7 linked regions of the Homo sapiens genome follow. The protein of the gene in region 1 purifies or fractionates together with the protein of each later gene. This does not show direct contact. Each region holds a gene or a part of one and is shown on either strand. Other genes may lie near its edges.

What was found.
Region 2: the proteins of CLASRP (region 1) and ZSWIM8 purify together in Homo sapiens (affinity purification with mass spectrometry; one large-scale study listed by BioGRID and IntAct). This does not show direct contact.
Region 3: the proteins of CLASRP (region 1) and TCF7L2 purify together in Homo sapiens (affinity purification with mass spectrometry; one large-scale study listed by BioGRID and IntAct). This does not show direct contact.
Region 4: the proteins of CLASRP (region 1) and SNX3 purify together in Homo sapiens (affinity purification with mass spectrometry; one large-scale study listed by BioGRID and IntAct). This does not show direct contact.
Region 5: the proteins of CLASRP (region 1) and RGL3 purify together in Homo sapiens (affinity purification with mass spectrometry; one large-scale study listed by BioGRID and IntAct). This does not show direct contact.
Region 6: the proteins of CLASRP (region 1) and ZBTB20 purify together in Homo sapiens (affinity purification with mass spectrometry; one large-scale study listed by BioGRID and IntAct). This does not show direct contact.
Region 7: the proteins of CLASRP (region 1) and HELZ purify together in Homo sapiens (affinity purification with mass spectrometry; 2 studies listed by BioGRID and IntAct, with this or other methods). This does not show direct contact.

Annotation. Positions count from the first base shown.
Region 1 is NC_000019.10:45,066,545-45,070,044, forward strand, and holds part of CLASRP (CLK4-associating serine/arginine rich protein), read left to right. Parts: intron 1-792; coding exon 793-1,050; intron 1,051-1,470; coding exon 1,471-1,510; coding exon of another isoform or gene 1,511-1,514; intron 1,515-1,875; coding exon 1,876-1,936; intron 1,937-2,521; coding exon 2,522-2,580; intron 2,581-2,657; coding exon 2,658-2,704; exon of another isoform or gene 2,705-2,710; intron 2,711-3,399; coding exon of another isoform or gene 3,400-3,477; coding exon 3,478-3,500. UniProt on the Homo sapiens protein: Probably functions as an alternative splicing regulator. May regulate the mRNA splicing of genes such as CLK1. May act by regulating members of the CLK kinase family.
Region 2 is NC_000010.11:73,792,106-73,795,605, forward strand, and holds part of ZSWIM8 (zinc finger SWIM domain-containing protein 8), read left to right. Parts: coding exon 1-747; intron 748-1,482; coding exon 1,483-1,614; intron 1,615-1,759; coding exon 1,760-1,939; intron 1,940-2,041; coding exon 2,042-2,225; intron 2,226-2,435; coding exon 2,436-2,534; intron 2,535-3,433; coding exon 3,434-3,500. UniProt on the Homo sapiens protein: Substrate recognition component of a SCF-like E3 ubiquitin-protein ligase complex that promotes target-directed microRNA degradation (TDMD), a process that mediates degradation of microRNAs (miRNAs).
Region 3 is NC_000010.11:113,149,247-113,152,746, reverse strand, and holds part of TCF7L2 (transcription factor 7-like 2), read right to left. Parts: intron 1,765-3,500; coding exon of another isoform or gene 1,750-1,764; coding exon 1,624-1,749; intron 1,023-1,623; coding exon 863-1,022; intron 415-862; coding exon 307-414; intron 1-306. UniProt on the Homo sapiens protein: Participates in the Wnt signaling pathway and modulates MYC expression by binding to its promoter in a sequence-specific manner. Acts as a repressor in the absence of CTNNB1, and as activator in its presence.
Region 4 is NC_000006.12:108,226,541-108,230,040, reverse strand, and holds part of SNX3 (sorting nexin-3), read left to right. Parts: intron 1-3,500. UniProt on the Homo sapiens protein: Phosphoinositide-binding protein required for multivesicular body formation. Specifically binds phosphatidylinositol 3-phosphate (PtdIns(P3)).
Region 5 is NC_000019.10:11,398,815-11,402,314, reverse strand, and holds part of RGL3 (ral guanine nucleotide dissociation stimulator-like 3), read left to right. Parts: intron 1-67; coding exon 68-100; intron 101-182; coding exon 183-304; intron 305-2,017; coding exon 2,018-2,113; intron 2,114-2,206; coding exon 2,207-2,275; intron 2,276-2,345; coding exon of another isoform or gene 2,346-2,363; coding exon 2,364-2,460; intron 2,461-3,500.
Region 6 is NC_000003.12:115,137,289-115,140,788, forward strand, and holds part of ZBTB20 (zinc finger and BTB domain-containing protein 20), read right to left. Parts: intron 1-3,500. UniProt on the Homo sapiens protein: May be a transcription factor that may be involved in hematopoiesis, oncogenesis, and immune responses. Plays a role in postnatal myogenesis, may be involved in the regulation of satellite cells self-renewal.
Region 7 is NC_000017.11:67,189,697-67,193,196, reverse strand, and holds part of HELZ (probable helicase with zinc finger domain), read left to right. Parts: intron 1-2,841; coding exon 2,842-3,040; intron 3,041-3,500. UniProt on the Homo sapiens protein: May act as a helicase that plays a role in RNA metabolism in multiple tissues and organs within the developing embryo.

The sequences.
Region 1 (3,500 bases):
CCCAGGAGGCAGAGGTTGCAGTGAGCCCAGCTATTGCACCACTGCACTCCAGCCTGGGCGACAGAGAGAGACTGTCTCAAAAAAAAAAAAAAAAAAAAAAAAAAGAGCCCAAGCAGAGTCAGCGTGTGGCCCAGAATTGGCTTCCAGGTCATATATTCCTTGTAGCTTACCCAGAGCAATGACAGGAGAAAGGCTTGGGGGACAGGTGGGACCTGGGCACATCTTGCATGCCAGCCTGAGAGTGGGCAGTGGGTGGAGAGTCCCACCAGTGTCCTGAGCAGGGAGAGGATGGGGTTCCGCATCCCCAGACTGGAACTTGTGGGTCTGTGCTGAGACTGGTGGAGGACAAGGGGTGGTCCCCACTATTGTCGAGACCCTGGACACAAGCAGGATGAGGTGGTGGGTGAGGGTGTAGATGAGGTCACCGTGGAACACTGTTGTGCCTGAGCTGGACACGGCTCATAAAGGGGGAGCCAGCCATCCCTCCCAGAGCTCACCTCCCGGGAAGTTAGCAAGCGGGTGTCTAGTGAGGGAGAGGTGACGTGGGCCAGGCAGGGCTCATGATGGCAGGACTGCCCTTAGGCTGAGTGTATCTAGAGCGCCATCTCTGTAGCCGGAGGGAGGCCGGAATGCCGCTCTGGGACATTTTGGAGGGAGAGTAGCAGGAGAGGAGAGTCGAGCCTGTCACCCTGGGCCTTGCAGGAAGGAGGACTGTGGATCCGGACCCAGGGTGGGGTGCGGTTGGGGTCCCTGGAGCCTCACAGTCCTCCTCCCGCCCTGCTGCATCCCCAGGAGCCGCTCCCACTCAGGGGACCGCTACAGGCGGGGCGGCCGGGGCCTCAGGCACCACAGCAGTAGCCGCAGCCGCAGCAGCTGGTCCCTCAGCCCGTCCCGCAGTCGCAGCCTGACTCGCAGCCGCAGCCATAGCCCCAGCCCCAGCCAGAGCCGCAGCCGCAGCCGCAGCCGCAGCCAGAGCCCCTCGCCATCACCCGCAAGAGAGAAGCTGACCAGGCCGGCCGCGTCCCCTGCTGTGGGCGAGAAGCTGAAAAAGTGAGCGGGGCGGGTCTGGAGGAAGAGGGCTGCCAATCTCGGGTGGGGAGGGTGAACATCACTGTTTTCTTTTTGAGGGGAACTTAGCCCTACCCTGGGAGGTCTGGGGGGTGGTGTATGGCCCTGGCCTGGGAGGGTGGATTTCAGGGGGACACAGCCCTGGCCTGGGGGGTCTGAGGAGGACACACCAAATCCTGGAGGATCTGCACAATTAGAACCTTGTCCTGGGTGAGGGTCAGAGGGGGACAGGTCCCTGTCTTACAGGTTCTGTGGGGTCTGAGAGGGACATGGTTGCACCCTGGGGCATCTGAGGCCCATGCCTTGGCTACCTGGTCTGAGGGCAGTGCTGAGGCTGGGGTCAGAGGTGGCAGCTGCCCTTTCCCCCTCCCAACCATGTCCTCTGGCCCTGCCCCCACCCAGGACCGAACCTGCCGCTGGTAAAGAGACAGGAGCTGCCAAAGTCAGTAAGAATTTGGAACTCGCCCGTCTAATTCCCGTCAGCAGCAGTGCCCAAGAGCTGGGCCCGGTGGGCCTGCAGGGGGGCCCGGGTGGGCTGGGAGATCCAGCCCCAGGGACAGGGAGGGGAGGGGAAGGGTCTGCCCCTGTGAGAACCATGTCCCTCTCCCCTCCTCACTGTACACTGGGGCTCCACCTGTCACTGAACCTCTGGGAGCCTCAGGGCTGTCCACAGCCTGCCCCTCCTCCCCACGTCGTTCTCCCCCCCCCACCCCCCCCCCGCACAAAGCCCCAGGCTTTTGGCTGAGGTGGGTTGTGGGAGCTCTGGGACACCCACCCCCTCTCCCGCCTCTTCTCCCCCCTCCCCAGCCCAAGCTGACGCCTCAGGAGAAGCTGAAACTGAGGATGCAGAAGGCGCTGAACAGGCAGTGTATGTTCTGCCCTGTCCCTCCAGGGTTTCACAGCTCTTCTTTCCCTTGGCAGTGGGAGCAAGGAGACTCAGCACCACTTTGGGAGGCCTGGCCCTTCCCTAGAGAGGCCACGCAGGCACGGAGGTGCTCTGGGGAGGAATGGGTTTGCATCAGCTCCGCTGCCGCTATGCTGGGGCCTCTGCAGTCAGGTTGACCTGTCTGAGCTCAGCTTCCTCATTTTAGAGAGTGGGGCTCTTAGCGGGCACGGTGGCTCACACCTGTAATCCCAGCACTTTGGGAGGCCGAGGTGGGCGGATCACGAGGTCAGGAGATCGAGACCATTAACACGGTGAAACCCCGTCTCTCTAAAACTACAAAAAATTAGCCAGGCATGTTGGTGGGCGCCTGTAGTCCCAGCTACTCAGGAGGCTGAGGCAGGAGATGGCGCGAACCCGGGGGGCGGAGCCTGCAGTGAGCCAAGATCACGCCACTGCACTCCAGCCTGGGCGACAGAGCGAGACTCTGTCTCAAAAAAAAAAAAAAAGAAAAAAGAGAGTGGGGCTCTTAAGGGAACCCCTCAGCCACCCTGTTCTTTCTCTCTACAGTCAAGGCGGATAAGAAGGCGGCACAAGAAAAGATGATCCAGCAGGAGCATGAGCGGCAGGTGAAGTGGGAAAGGGAGGGCTGGGGTGACGGGTGGGTGCTGGCCTGGCCACGTCCTCATAGCCCTGTCTGCTGCAGGAGCGGGAAGACGAGCTTCGAGCCATGGCCCGCAAGATCCGCATGAAGTAAGACCTTGCCCCTCCCTGTCCCATGGCCACACCTCCTGGCCTGCCTGGCCTTCCCACCATGGGCTGCTGGCTCAAGCCCTGCCCAGCTCCCTGTGGGTGGATGAAAGGCAGAGATCCCTGCCTGGCCCTCGGGGCTGTGCCCAGCTGCCTCTCTTGCTCCTCTCCCTGAATTTCCTCCCACCATTTCGACCTGCCTCCCGCCACCGCGACCTCCTCCCAGCTCTTCCAGCCTCCAAGTGCCAGTCACCTTTGCTGTTTTTTTGGCCTGGCAAGCTGTTCCTGATACCCCTTCCCCACTCACCCACCGCCATGGGTCTTTCTCCTGTCCCAGCCTCAGTTTGCTTATCTCCTAAATGGAGATACAGTCACTGTCCCACCTCACAGGCTGTTGGGAGGATTTGACAAGATCAAGGCCAGGCACGGAGGAGGCACCCAGTAGACGTAGCCATTGGGTTGCCAAGCCTGGCCACTGTGACGGAGACCATTTCAACACTCACTGTGTGCAGGTGCCCCAGTGCGGCAGGAAATGATGGGACTATCCTGCCTCCCTCTGTTCCCCAGGCTTTCCTAGGAAGGGGCTGGGATTCCAGTCAGCCCCGCCAGCTGGGGTCCCTCTGAACCTGGGGCTCCCTTTCCAAGCGGGGATTGGTGGCAGTACCGGCCCCCTTGGTTTACTGTCTTCCTCGGAGTAGGGTGTTGGAAGCACCTGCCCTCCCTGAGTTCAGTGTGTCCAGTGTTCCCGGCCAGATGCTCATGCCATGCCTTCGCAGGGAGCGGGAACGCCGAGAGAAGG
Region 2 (3,500 bases), on another chromosome or scaffold:
GGCCTGGAGGAATCCCGGGACCGGCCCCGACCCCTTCCTACTGAGCCAGCTGTGCGGCCCAAGGAGCCTGGGACCAAGCGAAAGGGCTTGGGTGAGGGGGTCCCCTCATCACAGCGGGGTCCCCGCCGCCTCTCAGCTGAAGGGGGAGATAAAGCTCTACATAAGATGGGTCCAGGTGGGGGCAAAGCCAAGGCACTGGGTGGGGCTGGCAGTGGGAGCAAGGGCTCAGCAGGTGGCGGAAGCAAGCGACGGCTGAGCAGCGAAGACAGCTCCCTGGAGCCAGACCTGGCCGAGATGAGCCTGGATGACAGCAGCCTGGCCCTGGGCGCAGAGGCCAGCACCTTCGGGGGATTCCCTGAGAGCCCTCCACCCTGTCCTCTCCACGGTGGCTCCCGAGGCCCTTCCACTTTCCTTCCTGAGCCCCCAGATACTTATGAAGAAGATGGTGGTGTGTACTTCTCGGAAGGGCCTGAGCCTCCCACAGCCTCTGTTGGCCCCCCTGGCCTACTGCCTGGGGATGTCTGTACCCAGGACGACCTCCCTTCTACAGATGAGAGTGGCAATGGGCTTCCCAAAACCAAAGAGGCAGCCCCTGCAGTTGGAGAGGAGGATGATGACTACCAGGCGTACTATCTGAATGCCCAGGATGGGGCTGGGGGCGAGGAAGAGAAGGCCGAGGGCGGGGCTGGGGAGGAGCACGACCTGTTTGCTGGGCTGAAGCCACTGGAACAGGAGAGTCGCATGGAGGTGAGGGGATGGAAGGAGGGAGGGCTGGGTGCTCCTTAGCCACAACTGGGAGGGGCTATCTAGCTCTAGTTGGGAGTGTCAGGACCATCAGCAGGATTGTGAGAACCCTGTTGCAGGCGCCGAACTGGTCTCCCTGCTTTCAGTCTACTCACTTTTCTGCTTCCACGAGATTTTCCTGAAATGTGATGGTGTCACTCTGCTGCTTAAAACCCTTCAATGGGTTCCTGTTGCCCTTATGATAAAATGAAAGTGGTTGGCATGACCTGTGAGGGTCCACTTGATCTGGTCTTTGCCTGCTTTGCCAGCCTCACTTGGCTGCTCTGTCCTTTGCACTCCAGTCAGCTGAATCACTCATGTATCTGCCATGCTCTCTCTCTTGCCTCCAGGATTTTGGACAGATTGACCTTTCTGCCTGGAATGCTCTTCCCCATTAGCCCGTGTTTCTCCTTCAGGTCTCAGGGATCTTAAAGATCACTTCCTCTAGGGAGTCTCTCTGATACTGTCCCTGTGCCCCAAGATATCCCACCTGCTTCCCCTTGACCTTTCCCTGTAATAGCTGGCATCACGGTGGCATGTGTGTTTATGTGTCTGTCTTTCTAACCAGAGCTCCTATGGAGCGGCACAGGGCCTGGCATGTAGCAAGTGTTCAAGGAATGTTGGCTGCATGAGTGAGCATGATGTCCTGCTCCTGGAAGTTGGGACTTTAACCTGTCTGGTCCCATGTCCTCCTTCCAGGTACTGTTTGCCTGTGCTGAGGCCCTGCATGCGCATGGCTATAGCAGTGAGGCCTCCCGTCTCACTGTGGAGCTTGCCCAGGATCTGCTAGCCAACCCACCCGACCTCAAGGTAGAGCCGCCCCCTGCCAAGGTGAGAGACCCCCTTCCTCTACCTTCCCCTCCCCCACTTACCCCCAACCTGCTCCCATGCCCCACCCCAAGTGAGAGCATCCTTCTACCTCCACCAAGGTAAGTCAGAATCATCTGCCTGTCTCCTGTGTTTCTTCCCTTTCTAGGGCAAGAAGAACAAGGTATCCACGAGCCGTCAGACCTGGGTGGCTACCAACACCCTGAGCAAGGCGGCCTTCCTGTTGACAGTGCTAAGTGAGCGTCCAGAGCACCACAACCTGGCCTTCCGAGTTGGCATGTTTGCCTTGGAGCTACAGAGGCCTCCAGCTTCTACCAAGGCCTTGGAGGTCAGAGGCTCCATCTCAGCCTTGTATTTCAGTCTCTTTAGAGCCTTGCACCTTGATCTCTATTGACACACCAGAGGTCTGAGCTCCTTCCTGTGCCCTCAGGTGAAGCTGGCATACCAGGAGTCTGAGGTGGCTGCCCTGCTCAAGAAGATCCCTCTGGGTCCAAGTGAGATGAGTACCATGCGGTGCCGGGCAGAGGAACTTCGGGAGGGGACACTCTGTGACTATCGGCCTGTGTTGCCTCTCATGCTGGCCAGTTTCATCTTTGACGTTCTCTGTGCTCCAGGTATGATGCCTGACCCTACAGTAAGTGGGGAACTGGGGTAGGGGTAGCTTTCTCTAAGAAAGACCAAGAGCCCCAAGTTTCTGAATCACCTTTAGGACCCATCAGGCAGCTTCATGGGTAGGTCTGTGATGATGAGGATTTTGGGTTCCCCTGTATTTTTTCCCATGCATGATACTTCTGTCTGCCTGACTTACCCCAACTTTTATACAGTGGTTTCTCCCACAGGTTCCCGGCCCCCAAGTCGCAACTGGAACAGCGAGACACCTGGGGATGAGGAGCTTGGATTTGAAGCAGCAGTTGCTGCCTTGGGTGAGTCTTGAGCATATCAACGAGCTAAGCCTGGTTCAGGTCTTGAAGGACATGAGACCTGTGCCTTGTTGTGAAGGGCTGTATGGTAATGGGAAGGTCAGGATGACATGTGTGAGCCAACTAGTGCCTGTAAGACAGGAATTCAGGGCAAAAATGTGTGCTATATGGCTGGGCGTGGTGGCCCATGCTTGTAATCGCAGCGCTTTGGGAGGCTGAAGCAGGAGGATTGTTTGAGCTCAGGAGTTCATGACCAGCCTGGGCAACCTAGCAAGACCTCATCTCTACTTAAAAAAAAAAAAAAAAAAAAAAAAAAAATTAGCCAGGTGTGGTGGCACATGCCTTGTGCTGCCAGCTACTCCAGAGGCTGAAGTGGGAGAATTGCTTTAGCCTGGAGATTGAGGCTGCAGTGAACTGTGATTGCACCACTGCCCTCTAGCCTGGGCAACAGAGTGAAACCTTGTCTCAAACAAAGAAAAAAAAAATTGTGTGCTATGGGTATTGGGTATTGTAAGGGCAGCAAAACAAAAATCTAGAGAAAGGCCTAAGGGAAGTGGTAGAATATGGAATGTGGGTTAAAAGATCAGTAGGTCCTAAACCAGCGAACACCATGAGTAAATACACAACGCAATCAAGTTTTCATGAGAATGAGGAGGCCAGCTTCCCTAAAATGATAAGTACATGCTGGGTAAGCAGATTGGACCTGGTTATGAAGGTTTTGAAAAGCACACCAGAGCTTAGGCTGGATATAATAGTCAACGAAGACTTCTATAGGTGATGTGGGTTGGACCAAGGGAACCCCTTACTTCATATGCTGATGGCTTGGGAACCCTGGCCTCTTACCTTTGCTGTCTTGGGAATTATGACTACTCTCAATCCCCATAAGGTCCTCTTTCTCGCAGGCATGAAGACAACAGTGAGCGAGGCAGAACATCCCCTCTTATGTGAAGGCACACGTCGGGAGAAGGG
Region 3 (3,500 bases), on another chromosome or scaffold:
AGAGCCTTGCCTCCTCTAGAAAGGAGACAAGCACCAAATCAACCTCATTGGTCCTGAGCTGGAACACTGGGACTGCAGCCTCCTCTCTCCACCCTGAAGAATGACTGTGAGCTGATCCAACCATCCACACGGGAAGCCCCTCCCTGCAGTTTAGCGATCCAGGAAGATGCTACCAGTCCCCAAAGCGGGCAGATTGGATGGTCCTGAGGCCCACCCTAGTCAAGTGGCAGGTCCTGTTCTCTTTGTCCGTATAGACGCACAACACAGCTCTACAGACTCCAATCCTAACGAAAATGATCCACCTACATAGTTATCCCGCGCGGACCAGCCGGGGTACAGTTGCATATGAAGCTGTCGCTCCTTCCGGGCCAGCTCGTAGTATTTCGCTTGCTCTTCTCTGGACAGTGCATGCCACTGGAGGGGACGTGGGGTACAGATGAGAAAGACATGAACAAAGAGAAAAGCATGAAAGAACATCACACATTACGCCAAGGTCAGGGGATAAATAATGCTGCCTTTTTGGGTGAGTCCGTCCAGAAATGGTATAATCTGTACATACTGACCGTCGGCTGGGTCCTGGCACTAACAGGAATGTTTAGACAAAACTTGATTTGTTATCTATGTCATTCTGTCATTTGCTCACTCGCTCGGGTAGGGGAAGAGCATGGCTGTGGCTGTTCTGAACGCTGAGTGCAGAATAACTAGTCCTGACTCAGTGAAGGCCATTCAAGGATTCAGAATGTGGCTGAAGGGCAAGAATTCTCCAAAGAAATGGGGACAGAGACATTCTGCCACCTGACCTGCTGCACTCTGGTCCCTCACCACCCGCCCCCCGCTTCTCCCTGAGAAGGGCGTCACCTACCCTCCGCCCAAGGATCTGGTTGATGGCCGCGCTTTCTTTCAACGTGCACTCAGCTACGACCTTTGCTCTCATTTCCTTCATATACAACATGAATGCATTAAGAGGTTTCTTTATGTGGGGCTTCTTCTTTTCTTCTTCCTTTTTGGAGTCCTGATGCTTTCTGGAGATAGACAAAACAGACGCAACCCAATAAACAAGGTCGTGGTCCAACTTCCTCCATGGCAGGGAACGTATCTCCTTGTCTCATAACCCCCAAGCCTAGCAGTTTTGGATTAAAAAGCATGCTTTTAGTTCTTCTGCACCCCGGAAAATGGAACAAAAATAGCTTGGGGAGGGGTTGGGGGAAGAGAGGGATTTTGCAATCACTTCCTCAAGTTTCACAAATATACAATTTTCCCAAGCCAGAGGGGAAAGCACATGGTTGCTGTCTTCACCTCGGCAGGGTTTTCTCCTGCTTGCAGAACAAAGCTCTAAATGTTCAATGATGCGGTTAGGGGGCAGGGAAGTGGTTGCAAATCCCAGTGTATCCAAGTACACACACAAAAAACAGTTCTGTTCTAACCCACGGTGGTACAGTGAGATTCTGCCACTGTGCACTCTCTCTCTCTTTGTAAGGGAGTGAAGAGCCCACACAGGCTGGGTATTGGCTGCAGTCAAACCAAACGAGGCCAACCTTAGGCAGAAAGCCACCACCCAGCAGCTGCAACAGGCTTGCAGAACACTGCGGCTACGAAGAAGGTGAGAAAAACAGCAACACTTACGAACTATGGAGTGAGCCGACATCACTCTGGGACGATTCCTGTTTGACTGTTGGTGTGACTATGGCCGGATGCGGAATGCCCGTCGTGTGTAGCGTATGATGTGGTGGGACCATATGGGGAGGGAACCTAGAAGACAGAAAGCTGTGTAAATCGTCAGAATCAAAATGAATGAATGAGGAGGGATGTGTACACACAATTAAAAAGAAAAAAAAAAACAGCACGTAACACTCACATGAAAGCAACCCAAGGCATATGAAACCTGTCAGCATTAATTAGCGATAAATTAAACATAATGATTCTCATAATGTCATTAAAGCCAATTCATTATTGCTACTGACATAAGACATTATGATTTTTAACATCTTTAGCAAAAGACAAATTCAACTGACGTACTTGGGCGGAAAAGTGGGCTTGGACTACCTGCCAGAAATCGCACGTCCACTTGTTTTTTGAGGCATTATTAGTGGCATCTAAGAAGACAATTTCCTAAGTCCTAATCAGCTCTAAAATGAAAGGTGAAATCTTTTGTTGTATATTGACAGCTAAATAAAATATTAACGTGGTTGAAATATACATACATTTTTGACAATGCTGTGCAAGCCTCATTAGGCCTCATCCTGTTGATGAAGTGCAATACAATTTTTATTTTTCTTTTGTGCTGTGTCCCATCATTTGACAGGAATGGGAGAGAGTGAGGCAGGAAGACAGGGAAAATTCAAATAGTTCCTATTTGGTTCATATCATAAGTCATGGACATTTTAAATAAGTTTCTATCCCTTTATGGAAAGATGCAAAAAAAAAAAGGAAAGGAAAGGTGCACACACACACAATAAACCTTTGATTCTGATTTGTATGCCCTTTCTCCTCTAAAATTTAGGATTCCTATATCACTTTTACTTCATATGTTGTCTAGGCATCATTAAGAAGTCTTCTAAATGATTATCAAAATTATAAATGAAAGATACAGTTTGTGTTTTCTCCTCTCATGCTGCTCATTTTTTGGACAGTTCTCTAAGGCACATTTTAGGACCTGAATTGGCATTTCCCAACCAAGTACATTAGCCAGGACAGAAAGAGCTAATCTCAACCTACTCTTGGCCCATCTGCAGACTGACAACTGGATCAAACACCTTTCTCATTTTCAATTTTGCGTGGTGTCACCATGATTTGTACTGGGTTGGAAGACTCACCCCTCTTCAAGCAACATATCCTACTATAGAAAAAATAGTGAGGGACAGAAAGGGCAGAATCCCAAAAGTAAACAATATGGCAGCCTCCTGCTCCAACCTGGCAAGGTGATTCAAGTGAGCAGATGGGAAGCTGTTCAGATGAAGATCATGGCAACTGTTGCTTTCTTAATAAGTCCAAACCAAAGCAGTCCAATGTACCATCCAAGGAATAACAATCTGCTCTTTACAAAGCCAATTCTGGTGGGAACTAGAGGGCCTAATGAGGATCGATCACGACAATTCTTCCAAAATGATTCTGTATGTATTTACAAAGTTTTTTCCAGAAGCGGGCTAGAGATAGTTTCCATTCAGCCAAAATAAGGTAACAAACATTAATTTGAAAAATAATAAAATGATTAAAGTACTAACTGAATCTACACAGATCAACAGAGGAAGGAAAGTTAATGCTGATTCTTGAAGAAGGCCCAAGCCACAGTAGACATTTCACTCAAAAATCCCACGCTGACGTGGCCTTTCCTGCCACTGCCTTTACAAATTTAAGCCAGTAGTGAAGACTGCATGACATGATTTTAAAAATAACAACAATACAAGTCCTTCGAATGTATCAAAAAAAGAGAGAGAGAAGGAAAATGTAAGGAAACAAACATGCTAACAACCTTCATCTTCATCCCCTTCCTCTCAAAATAA
Region 4 (3,500 bases), on another chromosome or scaffold:
AGCAGATAAACCTAGGAATCAACTAGAGCCATCTGTTCTTAATTCTACACCTTAATGCTACATGCAGCTCATCTGTGGCTTCTACTTCTGTAGTAACTTCTCTGTTCTATTTTTTCTGTTCATAGCTATCATTTTTCTATTCAAACATATTTATTAACTCCTGATGCTCACAGGTAGTCACCTTAGCCCCATATTTAGAGTGCAATTTAAACTTTTCAGTTTTATTTCCCATCATTCCCTATGCTTTAGAATATTCAAGAATTATATACTAAATATACACTGTACTTGTTTCTTCTCTGCATTTAGCTCACACTATTTTCACCATTTTCAGCTGTCTTATAGTATGGCTAGCTCTGTGTTAAAAGAGTCCTGGCTGAGGCCATTGCACTCGCGCCATTTTACCCTAGCATGGGCGACAAGAGCGAAACTCTGTCTCAAAAACAAACAAAACGAAAAAGAGTCCTGACTGGCCGTACGCAGTGGCTCACACCTCATATTCCAGCACTTTGGGAGGCTGAGGTGGAAGGATCCCTTGAGCCCAGGAGTTCAAGACCAGCCTGAGCAACTTAGGGAGACCCTGTCTCTAAAGGAAGGAAGGGGAGGGAGGGAGGGGGAGAGGGAGGGGAAGCAGAGAGACTGAGGAAAGGAAAGAAAAGGAGGGGAAAGAATGAATGAATCCGGGCCAAATCAATTGTCAATTCTTCCGTGCTTTTCATATTATACAAATGGTATTATGCTATATAATATACTGTTCTGAAACTTTTTTTTTTTTTTTTTTTTTGAGGTGGAGTCTCGCTCTGTCGCCCAGGCTGGAGTGCAGTGGCATGATCTCACCTCACTGCAACCTCCGCCTCCCGGGTTCAAGCGATTATCCTGCCATAGCCTCCGGAGTAGCAGGAATTACAGGCTCGTGCCACCTCACCCGGCTAATGTTTGTATTTTTAGTAGAGATGGGGTTTCACTGTATTGGCCAGGCTGGTCTTGAACTCCTGACCTCAAGTGATCCACCCGCCTCAGCCTCCCAAAGTGCTGGGATTATAGGCATAAGCCACCGCACCCAGCCTGAAACTTTTTACATGTCATACATTCTAGACAGCTTTTCTGATTAACCTATGGCTGAGTTATATTTTGTAAAAAGCTGTGTAATATAAGCTTGTAATGTAAGATTTATTGTTTCTGGTCTTTTTTGGGGTTTTTTTTTGTGTCTATTACAATGCTAAAATATTTTTGTATGTGTGGAAATATTTGTAGGATTAATTCCCATTGAAATTGTTCATTCAAAAGTTATGTGTATTTAATAGAGTAATGGATAATGTATTCACCAAAATGCCCCCCTTTTTTTTGAGACCGTCTCCCTCTGTCACCCAGGCTGAAATACAGTGAGTGATGTGATCACAGCTCATGCAGCCTCAGCCTCGAAGGCTGAAGCCATCCTGACACCTTATCTTCCCACTACAGGCATGTGCCACCATACCCAGCTAATTTTTTTTTTTTTAAACAGAGTTTCGCTCTTGTTGCCCAGGCTGGAGTGCAGTGGCGCAATCTTGGTTCACTGCAGTCTCCGCTTCCCGGGTTCAAGCAGTTCTGCCTCAGCATCCCGAGTAGCTGGGATTACAGGTACCCGCCACCATGCCTGGCTAATTTTTGTGTTTTTAGTAGAGACAGGGTTTCACCATGTTGTCCAGGCTGGTCGCGAACTCCTGACCTCAGATGATCCACCCGCCTTGGCCTCCCAAAGTGCTGGGATTACAGGCATGAGCCACCACGCCCAGCCTGCCCAGCTAATTTTTTATTTTTTGTAGAGATGGGGGTCTCACCATGTTGCCCAGCCTGGTCTCAAACTCCTGTGATCCTCCCACCTCAGCCTTCCAAAGTACAGGGATTACAGGCTTGAGCCATCATGCCCAGCCAGTTTGTAGTATTTTTAACCATGGAAATTCAACTTTTTATATGCTTATTTTCTAACCTTGATTGGTGTATGTTTCATAAGGGCCAGGTCTGCATCTTATTCATCATTATAAATAATGATTCTCCCTTATCTAGCATGGTGCCCTTTTATAGATGATCAGTAAATAATAGTTTAGTCCTCCTGAAGCTGTAGGTAAAAAACCTCTCCGCCCTTCAATCATTTTATGAAAGTTAAATAAATTGAAAGTGACCAATCACAGGAGTTTCAGCAGTGATAGTTCAGTACCTTAAACAACAACAACAACAAAAAAAAAAAACCCACATTTTGCACTTAGTTATTTTAATCAGTTACATTGAATTACAAATCCTTGTAATGATGAGGAAGACGTTTAACAGGCTAAGTTAACCACTGCATATGTAATGGGCAAGTGATGTTTGAATTTCTTGATGTGACTTTAAACTCTAAAGCAGTCCTCATGCAAAAAGAGAAATCATAACCAGTTAAGAAAACTAAAGGAACTTTCTTAAGCTAATCATGGTCCTCTAAATTTAAGTATATAAACTATCAAACTATTAGCTAATCATAGAAGGGAAAGTACTTTTCCCCCTCACCCCTCCCCTTTCTGTTAGAGTGAATCAGATATAATCATGATTGTGTCAAAAGTTCAAAAGGGAAAATGGAAGGTAAAATGAGCTGAATTGGCACTCTTCTCTCAACATTGTACCTGTAAGCTTGATATGTTGTTTCAGAGATTAACTTTATAGACTTCCGTACCCAGAAGTATGAAAATTCTTAGGGGACTCTTTTCGCAAGCTTGATCTTAACGTATTTGAATAAAGAGAGCAGTTAATCCCCTTTGTAAAGTAATTTGAGAGGAGGGAATTCAGAATGTAAAATCTCACCTGCAGAAAACACTCAACTCTGTAAAGGCCTTTTTATCTTTAAGGCATTTACAAAGACTTAATATTTTAATGCGGAAGGGTGAACTTGGTTAAAAAGCCAATAGGTGAAATTAGAGAGAAATAATCCAGTGCTTTCTTTCTGGGAATTATTCTACTCTCCAGGGGACCTAATTTTATTCCCTGTGGGGAATGAGAATACCCTCTGTACAACAAGCCAGCATCTTTAAATATAAGCTTGACTTTTAGTATAATAAGAGTCTTGTTAGGTGCAATTTTTTCCTTAGTCATTTATACAATGAACAAATGTTGTGGTTACCTGGGAAAGAAAATTCAAGTGCTTTTAAATCTCTTGTGAGATTTGGTTTCATGCTTGAAACCTATACACTGTTATGCCCAATAGCATCTGTTGAAAATTCTGAGCTGTAAGGTATACAACATAGAGAAGTTAATACACTTAGGAAAAAATTGAGACCACTACAAAATGGATTTAAGGGCCTGAATTAAAAGCTTTTCTTGTGCTGAGTGACAGCTACTTACCAGTAGCATTAAGCTTAACAAATAAGTAGAACTTTCTTAGGAGTGAATATTACAAGATGATGTCCCTGTATACACAGTAGGAAGCCAGTCTTTCCTTCAGGTGGCACTTAACTTTTTTCTTCCAATTGTAAAACACTTTTTAGTTCTATGCA
Region 5 (3,500 bases), about 34 Mb from region 1:
CAGCCCCTGACCTTGACCCTTGACCCTTGACCCTGGGTGCTGCAATTCAGACACACTTTGCCCCCAGGGGGATCTCATTAACTTTGAGAAGAGGAGGAAGGTGAGTGGAGGCTACAGTGGGTGTGGTGGTGCCTGAGGGTGGGGGTGGGGCAGGGGTAGGGTCTTAGAGGCTCGTCCTCCAGGAGTGGGAGATCCTGGCCCGCATCCAGCAGCTGCAGAGGCGCTGTCAGAGCTACACCCTGAGCCCCCACCCGCCCATCCTGGCTGCCCTGCATGCCCAGAACCAGCTCACCGAGGAGCAGAGGTGACCACCCTGTAGCCTGTCCCAGCCCCACCCCAGCTGAGCCTGGGTCACCAACTGGATTCCACCCACTCCATACACACCTCCAGCTCCTCCCAAGACCCCCTCTTGAGCCCTGATCCCCCACTACAACCTGTGACCTTGCAGTATCTCCAGTCGAATCAAATAGACTGGGCCTGGTGGTTTACTCGTGTAATCCCAGCACTTGGGAGGCCAAGGTGGGTGGATCACTTGAGCCCAGGATTTCGAGACCAGCCTGGGCAACATGGCGAAACCCCATATCTACAAAAAAATACAAAAATTAGCTGAACGTGGCTGGGCACGGTGGCTCACACCTGTAATCCCAGCACTTTGGGAGGCCGAGGCGGGTGAATCACATGAGGTAAGGAGTTTGAGACCAGCCTGGCTAACAGAGTGAAACCCCGTCTCTACTAAAAATACAAAAAAAAAATTAGCCAGGTGTAGTGGCAGGCGCCTGTAGTCCCAGCTACTTGGGAGGCTGAGGCAGGAGAATGGCGTGAACCCGGGAGGCAGAGCTTGCAGGGAGCCGAGATGGTGCCACTGCACTCCAGCCTGGGCAACAGAGCGAGACTCCGTCTCAAAAAAAAAAAAAAAAAATTAGCTGAATGTGGTGTTGAGTGCCGTTGGTCCCAACTACTTGGGAGGCTGAGGTGGGAGGATTGCTGGAGCCTGGGAGGCAGAGGTTGGAGTGAGCCAAAATCACGCCACTGCAGTTCCAGTCTAGGTGACAGAGTGAGACCCTGTCTCAAAAAAAAAAAAAAAAAAATAGTCACAATTGACCTCTGACCTCAATTTCAACCCCATCTGATTTTCTGACCTCAACTTTAGCATTCAGCTGGCCATTCAACTCAACTGTCCCATCTGTTGACTTCCCCATCTTTGGTCCTATCTGACCCATGACCTTATTCATGACCCCTCATCTGACTCTCTGACCCCAACCCTTGACCCTCAGTTCTGAGTAACTGACTCCAACTTTTATGTTTGACTGTCCAGCTTGACTATGACAACTGTGTCCTTTCTTTCTATATAACTGTGACCCTAACCATTGACCCCAATGGTGACCTGACCCCAGTCTGACCCTGACTTTATTTTATTTATTTATTTATTTATTTATTTATTTATTTATTTATTTATTTTTGAGACAGAGTCTGGCTCTGTTTCCCAGGCTGGAGTGCAGTGGAGTGATCTCGGCTCACTGTAGCCCCCGCCTCCCAGGTTCAAGCAATTCTACTGCCTCAGCCTCCCCGGTAGCCGCAATTACAGGCGCGAGCTACCACACCTGGCTAATTTTTTTTGTATTTTTAGTAGAGACGGGGTTTCACTATATTGGCCAGGCTGGTTTCGAACTCTTGACCCGAAGCAATCCTCTCGCCTCAGCCTCCCAAAGTGCTAGGATTACAGGCGTGAGCCACTGCACCCAGTCCTGACCCTGACTTTAATCCTGACCCAATTTGATTCCTTAGTGCCACCCTGTGAATCTCTTTGTGACCTCCTGACCAGCCATCCTGTCCCATCTCTGATAAGACCTTGATGCTCAATGACCCTCATTTACCACCCTGACCCTGGCATGTGGGGTGCCACCTCTGGCTGCTCCCCCTTACACCCCAAACCCACCTCCCAACTGATTCCAACTCTTATCTCTCCATCCCCTGTATTTCCTGCCCCCACCACCTCATCCACATATTGACCCCTCAGCTACCGGCTCTCCCGGGTCATTGAGCCACCAGCTGCCTCCTGCCCCAGCTCCCCACGCATCCGACGGCGGATCAGCCTCACCAAGCGTCTCAGTGCGTGAGTCTCGGGGTGTGTGTAGGGGCGGTGATGTGGGCAGATATCAGCAAGGGCTGCTCCTGCCTTAGCCTCATCCCCTGTCCCCATCCTTAGGAAGCTTGCCCGAGAGAAAAGCTCATCACCTAGTGGGAGTCCCGGGGACCCCTCATCCCCCACCTCCAGGTGAGCATTCTGCTTGGTGATGGGACTGGGGATCATGGGATCAGGAGTCAGCACAGCCACCCCACCTCAGCCTCTGCATCTCCCCCAGTGTGTCCCCAGGGTCACCCCCCTCAAGTCCTAGAAGCAGAGATGCTCCTGCTGGCAGTCCCCCGGCCTCTCCAGGGCCCCAGGGCCCCAGCACCAAGGTACCAAGACGGCTTGTGTGTGCATGCGGGCCTGCGGGCACCCAGGCTCTGTGTGTGTGCACGTGTGTGTGCATGCACATGTGTACACACAGGATTGTGGGGCCAGGAGTGTATACAGGAGGCACACTGAGCGCCCGGGGTATCCATCCAGGGGATTGCATGCATCTGCACGGCCCTGTTTGGGTGATCACTCATAAATCCGACTCGTGCTCAGATTTGGACCTGTGTAACTGCTTGCCCATGGGTCATCTAGGGTGCAATCACATCACACCCCTTTTTATTTGAAACAGGGTCTTCTTGCTCTGTCACCCAGGCTGAAGTGCAGCGGTGCAATCTCAGCTCACCGCAACTTCCACCCCTCCCCCAGGCTCAAGCAATCCTTCCACCTCAGCCTCCCAAGTAGCTAGGACCACAGGTGTGCACCACCATGCCCTGCTATTTTTTTTATTTAGTAGAGATGAGGTTTCGCCATGTTGCCCAGGTGGGTTTCGAACTCCTGAGCTCAAACAATGCACTCACCTCGGCCTCCCAAAGTGCTGGGATTACAGGTGTGAGCCACCGCACCCAGCCTACACTTTTTTGAGGACATGTATGTCCCTAAGAATCTGCATACCATGGCAGACACGGTGGCTATTGCCTGTGATCCCGGCACTTTGGGAAGCCAAAGTGGGAGGATTGCTTGAGGCCGGGAGTTCAAGACCAGCCTGGGCAACATAGTGAGACCCTATTTCTATTAAAAGTCAAAAAAATTAGCTGGGTGTAGTCCCAGCTACTCAGCAGGCTGAGGTGGAAGGATCGCTTGAGTTTGAGGCTGCAGTGAGCTACGATCATGCCACGGCACTCTAGCCTGCATGATAGAGCGAGATCCTGTTTATGAAGAAAAAGAGACTGGGCACGGTGGCTCACGCCTGTAATCCCAGCACTCTGGGAGGCCGAGGTGGGCGGATCACGAGGTCAAGAGATCGAGACCATCCTGGCCAACGTGGTGAAACCCTGTCTCTACTGAAAATAGAAAAATTAGCTGGGTATGGTCGCGCACA
Region 6 (3,500 bases), on another chromosome or scaffold:
TTTAAGTTTTTAGTACCTTGTATACAAAGGGTATATGAGTATGTATGTATACATGACAGAAGTACTTGGTTGGAGGTCATTTAAATTATCTGCAATAAAAATTCACTTTAAAGGTTACTATAATTCCTTTTAATTCATGCATGCTGACTATACTAAATATAATCCAAAGTCATGTACACTGACTTTACCTGAACTGATTTGAGACTACTACTCTGATAGAAATGCATTTACACTATCAGATAAAATTAAATCTTTCTTTCAGTATAGTGACAAATCAAGGAAAAGTTAAAGTACATAATAAAAGTCTAGACTGTATTCCACTCAAAGCATAGTAGAGGCTGTTTTAAAATTCCATGAATATGGGAAGGAGGAGACAAAAGCTAAATTCCATAATAAATAAAACAAAATTAAGGTATATAATATTTTACCCCTCATATCCATCACATCCTCAAGAAAGTTAACAGATGTTTTCCTGTTTTTGAAAATTGGACAGCAAACAACAATGTAGATTATAAATGTTCCTAGAACAGTGATTTCCAAATTGGGTGGCACACAGTAGGCATTCAATAAATGGCTTACCACACAGATTGTGCTACATTGCATATCTTTGTCATGCACTTAAACTTACTGCCTAACTCTAGGTTAGGACTGATGATCATGTTTTTGTGCCAAAAGCATAGCAGTCTTTGTTTTCGAAACTCTCAGTGACCCATATTTAAGCCAGCTATTGGTTTCTGAAACAAATGTTAAGGGCACAAAGAACAAACAAACACAAAAGCCTTCCAAAGTCATAGGATTTGCTACCCTTTGAATATACTGTTTCTAGTCTCCCTCACCCCTATTTCTGCATGATACCTGGTTCTTGGTTATTCAGTCGGGTTTGATTTAGTTTTCCTTTTTGACCTCTACCTTCCCAGAACTTTCAGTAATACTTCCTTTGTCCTGCTCCTACCCATGATTTCCAAGGCCTGCTTTAACATGGTACCCAGCTCCACTGTTGCAAATAGAACTAAATCAGGCAGCAGTTAGAGTCTATTCATTGTACAACCTTTAGACAAATTCTCTATCATCATTTTTAATTCTAGACTGAAGAGTTATATTTTAAAAAGATTCTATCACAGCAACCATTGTTCCTACTTACAACTCTTTCACCTTGTACCCTTCTCTAGAACCTTCTCCAAATCTATGCCTTTCTGAAATAAAATTGCCATTATTAATCTGGGCAAGCACTGAGTTAAAATCGTCCCAGAATAGTGGTCTGATGGGGTGGTGATTAAGAGCTTAGGTTCTCCAGAGCTGTACTTGAGTTTAATTTCCCATGTGTTTTATACTTAGCTGTGTGACTTTGAACAAGATACTTACCCTTTCTGAGCCTTCGCATATCTTTAAAATTGGGATAATAAAGGTACCTGTCTCACGGGATTGTGGAATTAACTGAAAAAATGCAGATATAACCAATGACTGCAACAAAGTAAGATCTCAGTAAATGTTGGCTACTATTGGTGTTGGTGGTGTGATTAGTATTCCTGTTTAATACAAGGATAGAATGCATTTACTTTTCACTGTGCTTCCCACTAATAATTTTGCTAGTCTTTTTGGTACTCATGGCTTTAGAAGAGTTACAGTGATTCTTCAATATGTATACTGGGTTTCAGTTAACACTAAAACCAGCTTCCCTTAAGCACATTTAGAATATCTTTTCCATTATTTGCATGCATTGAAGCATTCATACCACCTTTTGGGTCCAACAATTGATCTAAAATTATTCTTACAATTTCTCCTGATTAGCTAGATGTTTGGTAAGCTAAAATAGCTTACCATCATCTAACAGACAGTATATTTTGGCTACGAGGTGATTTATAAAATATTATATGATCAGTACCAGGAACATCTGGAGCTGTGGGTGGATGTGAGGAAATGAGAGGATTCAGGATAGTATAGCTTCCTGCAGATTGCTGTTTCCATCTAAGGTAATGTTAGATAGCTTTAAGCCTTTCACTACCATTCATACTAGCAAAAAGGATGAGTCAATTAAACAGAAACTGAGAGTAAAATTTTAAATTAGAACTTTGAGGTTATCATTAAAGATATATCAAGTAGGTATATAGAAATTGTATATAGTTGTTTCTTTCAATATATAACAGGACAATATTTGCAAAGTCTTTTCTAACAGATTCTTTCCTAGTCAGATTTCTTTGCCTACCTTATCTTCCTTCCTATGTAAATCTATCTGTGCATGGATATAATATAAGATCAAAAACTAAATGCAGTAGTTAAAAATTACCAATTTTATAAGATCTGCATGGAGGTGGTTCCTGATTACTCAATGTATACCTATGTTTTGCTTAGAGAAGAGAATCACAAAACCAAATTTATCTTTTATCTTTGAATAAATGTATCTATCTATAGATTTTATAGAAATAGAAAAATGTGAGTTGATTCATTCTGTTGTTACCTGCATCCTCAATTTTAACAACTTTATGCTGCATGAAATGCAGAGTCAAGTTTACAAATTCTATTAGCAATACACCTTCCTGAGTTAAGATGAGTTGGCAAAGTATTTATGTAAACTAATAGATTTATTATACTTACCCACTATGAAAGATTATAAGTACTTAATATCATATATCTATACTTTACTAGTGTGCTATGTTAGAAAGCATGTATCATTAAAATTAAACTTTTATAAAAGACTAAAAGTGGAAAGCAAAGTCAAGTATTTTACATATACTGTTTCTAGGTGTCCTAAGCATCAGTTTCAGTAACACTACCAGAAGCTAAAATAACAATTCAATTGTTGAAGGAAACAAACTCAGATGATTAGAACTGAAAATGACCCTAAAAATGAAAAATCTAAGGTGCTAAGGTGGAGATCCGCATAGATTATGCAACATGCCATAGATCATGTAACTAATTAATGGCCGCAGTAGAACTAGAACAACCTCTACTAACTTCACATCTGAGATTTTTGACAATGTATAACAAAGAGTTGAATTTAATATATGAGAGATTGAAAAGGTAGATATTGTCCCCAAGTTAAAAATCTTTGGATGTAATTACTTCTACTTACTTAATTTTATATTCCTAAGACGACACATTTAAAATAGCATAAAACTGTAAAAACTCGTTAGAAGTAATGAAAACTACAAACAAAATTTATGCTTTATCTTAAATCAAAACCATGGAAAAGGCCATTTTCTTTTGTCTAAAGGAAGCCTGAGATTTACTGAAAATGTGTGTGAGTGCGAGAGAGTGTGTATGTGTGTGTGGTGGTGGTAGGGGTCTTTGTTTTGTTTTGTTTTGTAAATTGTTAGAGATTGTTCTATTAATAGTTTCCTTTTGTAATGGTAATCTGTGCTCCAAAATGAGGGCACACTAAAATGAATTTCTGATAATTTATAAAGCAGTGAAATACAAATACATTTCTAGAAACTTACTAATGACAGTAAGAAAATGGGTACCAAGAGTTTCAAAATTAAAAATCAAAATCTTTTTAATAT
Region 7 (3,500 bases), on another chromosome or scaffold:
ATTTTTGTATTTTTTTTGTAGAGATGGGGTTTCACCATGTTGCTCAGGCTGGTTTTGAACTCCTGAGCTCAAGCAATCCTCCTGCCTTGGCCTCCCAAAATGCTGGGATTACAGATGTGAGCCACCACACCTGGCCATGGCCATTTGTTAATGTGAAATTTACTTAGGTTGTGGTGATTGAAGTTGACAATACTTTATGTAAAAAGTAGAGCATAAAATAGATAAAGAAATGTTAAATTGTTTTAACCTTTCTGAAAAATATTATCTTCATGTAATTCTTATGTAGAATTTATGAATAATTCATAATGAAGGGCTAACCTTTCAAAATTTAATAATTATTTATTAATGTGGAAGGAATGATTAAAGTTACAGTTAAAATGGTAAACTCTTCGGTTCTTTTTGTAAGAACTTGTAACTAGTGGGATTTTTAGATATAAATTCTCACCGCCTCTTTAGATTACTTTTGATAGCGAAGGAAATTTGCTACATGGTTTTGATTATTGAATAGTCAGGAAACTAATGTGTAAGTATTGAAAATCCTAGTGGTGTTATGTTGTAGAAGAGACAGAACACAATCCTATGAAAAGGAAATATGAGAAGATTTGAAGTACAGATAAGAATATAACACTTTCACTTTTTAGGGAAATAATTTAAAGCCAAGCAATAGAAAGACAAAGATTTGGCCCATTAAGACATATTGAAAAGAAACATAAAATGATTTTAAATGTGTCTTCAAAAGTGTAAGAGAATTTAATAAATAGTATAATTTTAAGTTCAAGTACTTTGTTGTACCATCAGGAAAAGTTTTAAATATACTCATTTTTTCAAATACGGTGAACCATTTGAAAATTCATATTGTGCTGTGGTTCATTTCTTATTTCTTACTATCCATATTTTTTCCAATTGAAAAATGGTCTGTAATATAACATCTCTCTTTTGCTATTTATAGTTTTATATTATATTTACATTTAATTATGTATTTTTTTTTATTTTTGAGACAGAGTTTTGCTCTTGTTGCCCAGGCTGGAGTGCAATGGCATGATCTCGGCTTACTGCAACCTCCGCCTCCCGGGTTCAAGCGATTCTCCTGCCTCAGCCTCCCAAGTAGCTGGGATTATAGGCATGTGCCACCACCCCGGCTAATTTTCTATTTTTAGTAGAGACAGGGTTTCTGCATGTTGGTCAGGCTGGTCTTGAACTCCCGACCTCAGGTGATGCGCCTGCCTTGGCCTCCCAAAGTGCTGGGATTACAGGCGTGAGCCACTGTGCCCGGCCATTTAATTATATTTCTAGTTTAATTTTCATTTTTTCTCAGAAGATCTTTTATCAATGTTTTTATTATTTTTATTTAAAAACTGGCTTTGCCTATAATTTTGCAGGGTATTTAAAACTTTTTTAAAAAGTTAATGCCATCTCAAAAAAAAAAAAAAAAAGTTAATGATCAGGGCCGGGCATGGTGACTCATGCCTGTAATCCCAGCTCTTTGGGAGGCCAAGGCAGGTGGATCACTTGAGGTCAGGAGTTCGAGACCAGCCTGGCCAACATGCAACCCCATCTCTACTAAAAATACAAAAACTAGCCGGGCATTGTGGTGGCAGGCACCTGTAATCCCAGCTACTCTGAAGGCTGAGGCAGGAGCATCCCTTGAACCCGGGAGGCAGAGGCTGCAGTGAGCCGAGATCGTGCCACTGCGCTCTAGCCTGGGCAACAGAGCGAGACTATCTCCAAAAAAAAAAATTATCAAAGTATTTTATTTTTATCTGTTTTTGGTCACTGAATTGTCAGTTGAATTTTCCGAGTTGTAAACGTCGAGAAATCATTGACTCTCTGTCCTTTAAAATGAACATTTATAATTTATTCCCTTGAATTTAACATGACTGTTGAATAAATTTGTGACTCTGTAATATAAAACTTTGATTCTAAATTTATTTAAAGCTTCAAGCAAGTTAATATATTTTCACTGAAATATAGGTAATAGTAATGTAGAAAAGAGTAAAATCACTATGTTTAAAGGTGAAAAGTAAAAGCCTTAAAATGGTAATTAGTCATATGTTAACTGTTTTTTCAGAATGAAATTCCCATATATAGAAAATTTTTTTAAGGTCCTTATCATTTTGGGAAGTAGGGTATACCTGTGTGTGAGCAGCAAATCCACTTGATGTCAGTATTGCTTAAAAAAATCCTACTCTGGCTGGGCGTGGTGGCTCACGCCTATAATCCCAGCACTTTGGGAGGCCGAGGCGGGTGGATCACCAAGTCAGGAGTTCAAGACCAGCCTGGCCAAGATGATGAAACCCCGTCTCTACTAAAAATACAAAAACTAGCCAGGCGTGGTGGCGGGCGCCTGTAATCCCAGCTACCCGGGAGGCTGAGGCAGAGAATTGCTTGAAACCAGGAGGCAGAGGTTGCAGTGAGTCGAGATTACGCCACTGCACTCCAGCCTGGGCAACGGAGTGAGACTCCGTCTCAAAAACAAAAAACAAAAAATCAAAAACAAAACCCAGTTACACTAAGAGGAATTGTCTAGTAAGAGTCCTTATATGACCAAGGAAGCTACTTTTCAGTGCCTCTTTTGGAGGGCCGACGTGAATACCTATGCCTTAGGATCCCCTAATTCCAGAGAAAGTCAGTGAATAATATGGGGAGCTGATGTTTTGGTTAACTGTTGTAAATGTTCTCTAAACCTCTTCTCCCTCCTTTGTACAAGACAGTACGATAAATATGGCCTTTCAGCACATGAAGTTTTGTTTTTATTGAAGAATCAGAGGGCAAATGCTGGGAGTTTATTTTTAAATGGTTCAACAAAGTATATGATAAAACAGTCTTTCCTATTCTACTTAGATTTTTAGAACAAGGAATCTGTAGGTATGGTGCCCAGTGTACTTCAGCACATTCCCAGGAAGAACTAGCAGAATGGCAGAAAAGATATGCTTCACGGCTGATAAAATTGAAACAGCAAAATGAGAATAAACAGCTCTCAGGCAGTTACATGGAAACCTTGATAGAAAAGTGGATGAATTCATTGTCTCCTGAGAAAGTGGTGAGGAAAATAAGCTACATTATTTTTTGTTTGTCTTAAACAATGAACTTGAGTCTTGACTTTATTGTGTGCTCTATTTTGGTTTATTTCCTTATCTTCTTTGCAAAGAACTTGATTCTGATAGAATGATGTTTTTAGTAGCTATAGTAGACCCATTTGTTAAAATGAAGAGCAGAACTAAACCACTTGTTTGGAGATTTGCCTGTACTGTATTAATTACCTTCATTCAGGCAGTTTTTGAGTGCCATTTTTGTGGTGGTGGTTAATTTTCTTTTCTCTCTTATTTTAGCTTTACTATATTTTGTTCTTGTCAAAATTACTGAAAATGAAGGTATAAAATACTTTGGTCTGTAAACAGTTCCATCATCATCTTAACTGTTGACATTTATTTTCCATGCTAAAAGATTTTGTTTGTGCCCTTAGCAATAAAAACATAACATAAATTGCTGTCTGTTTTCAG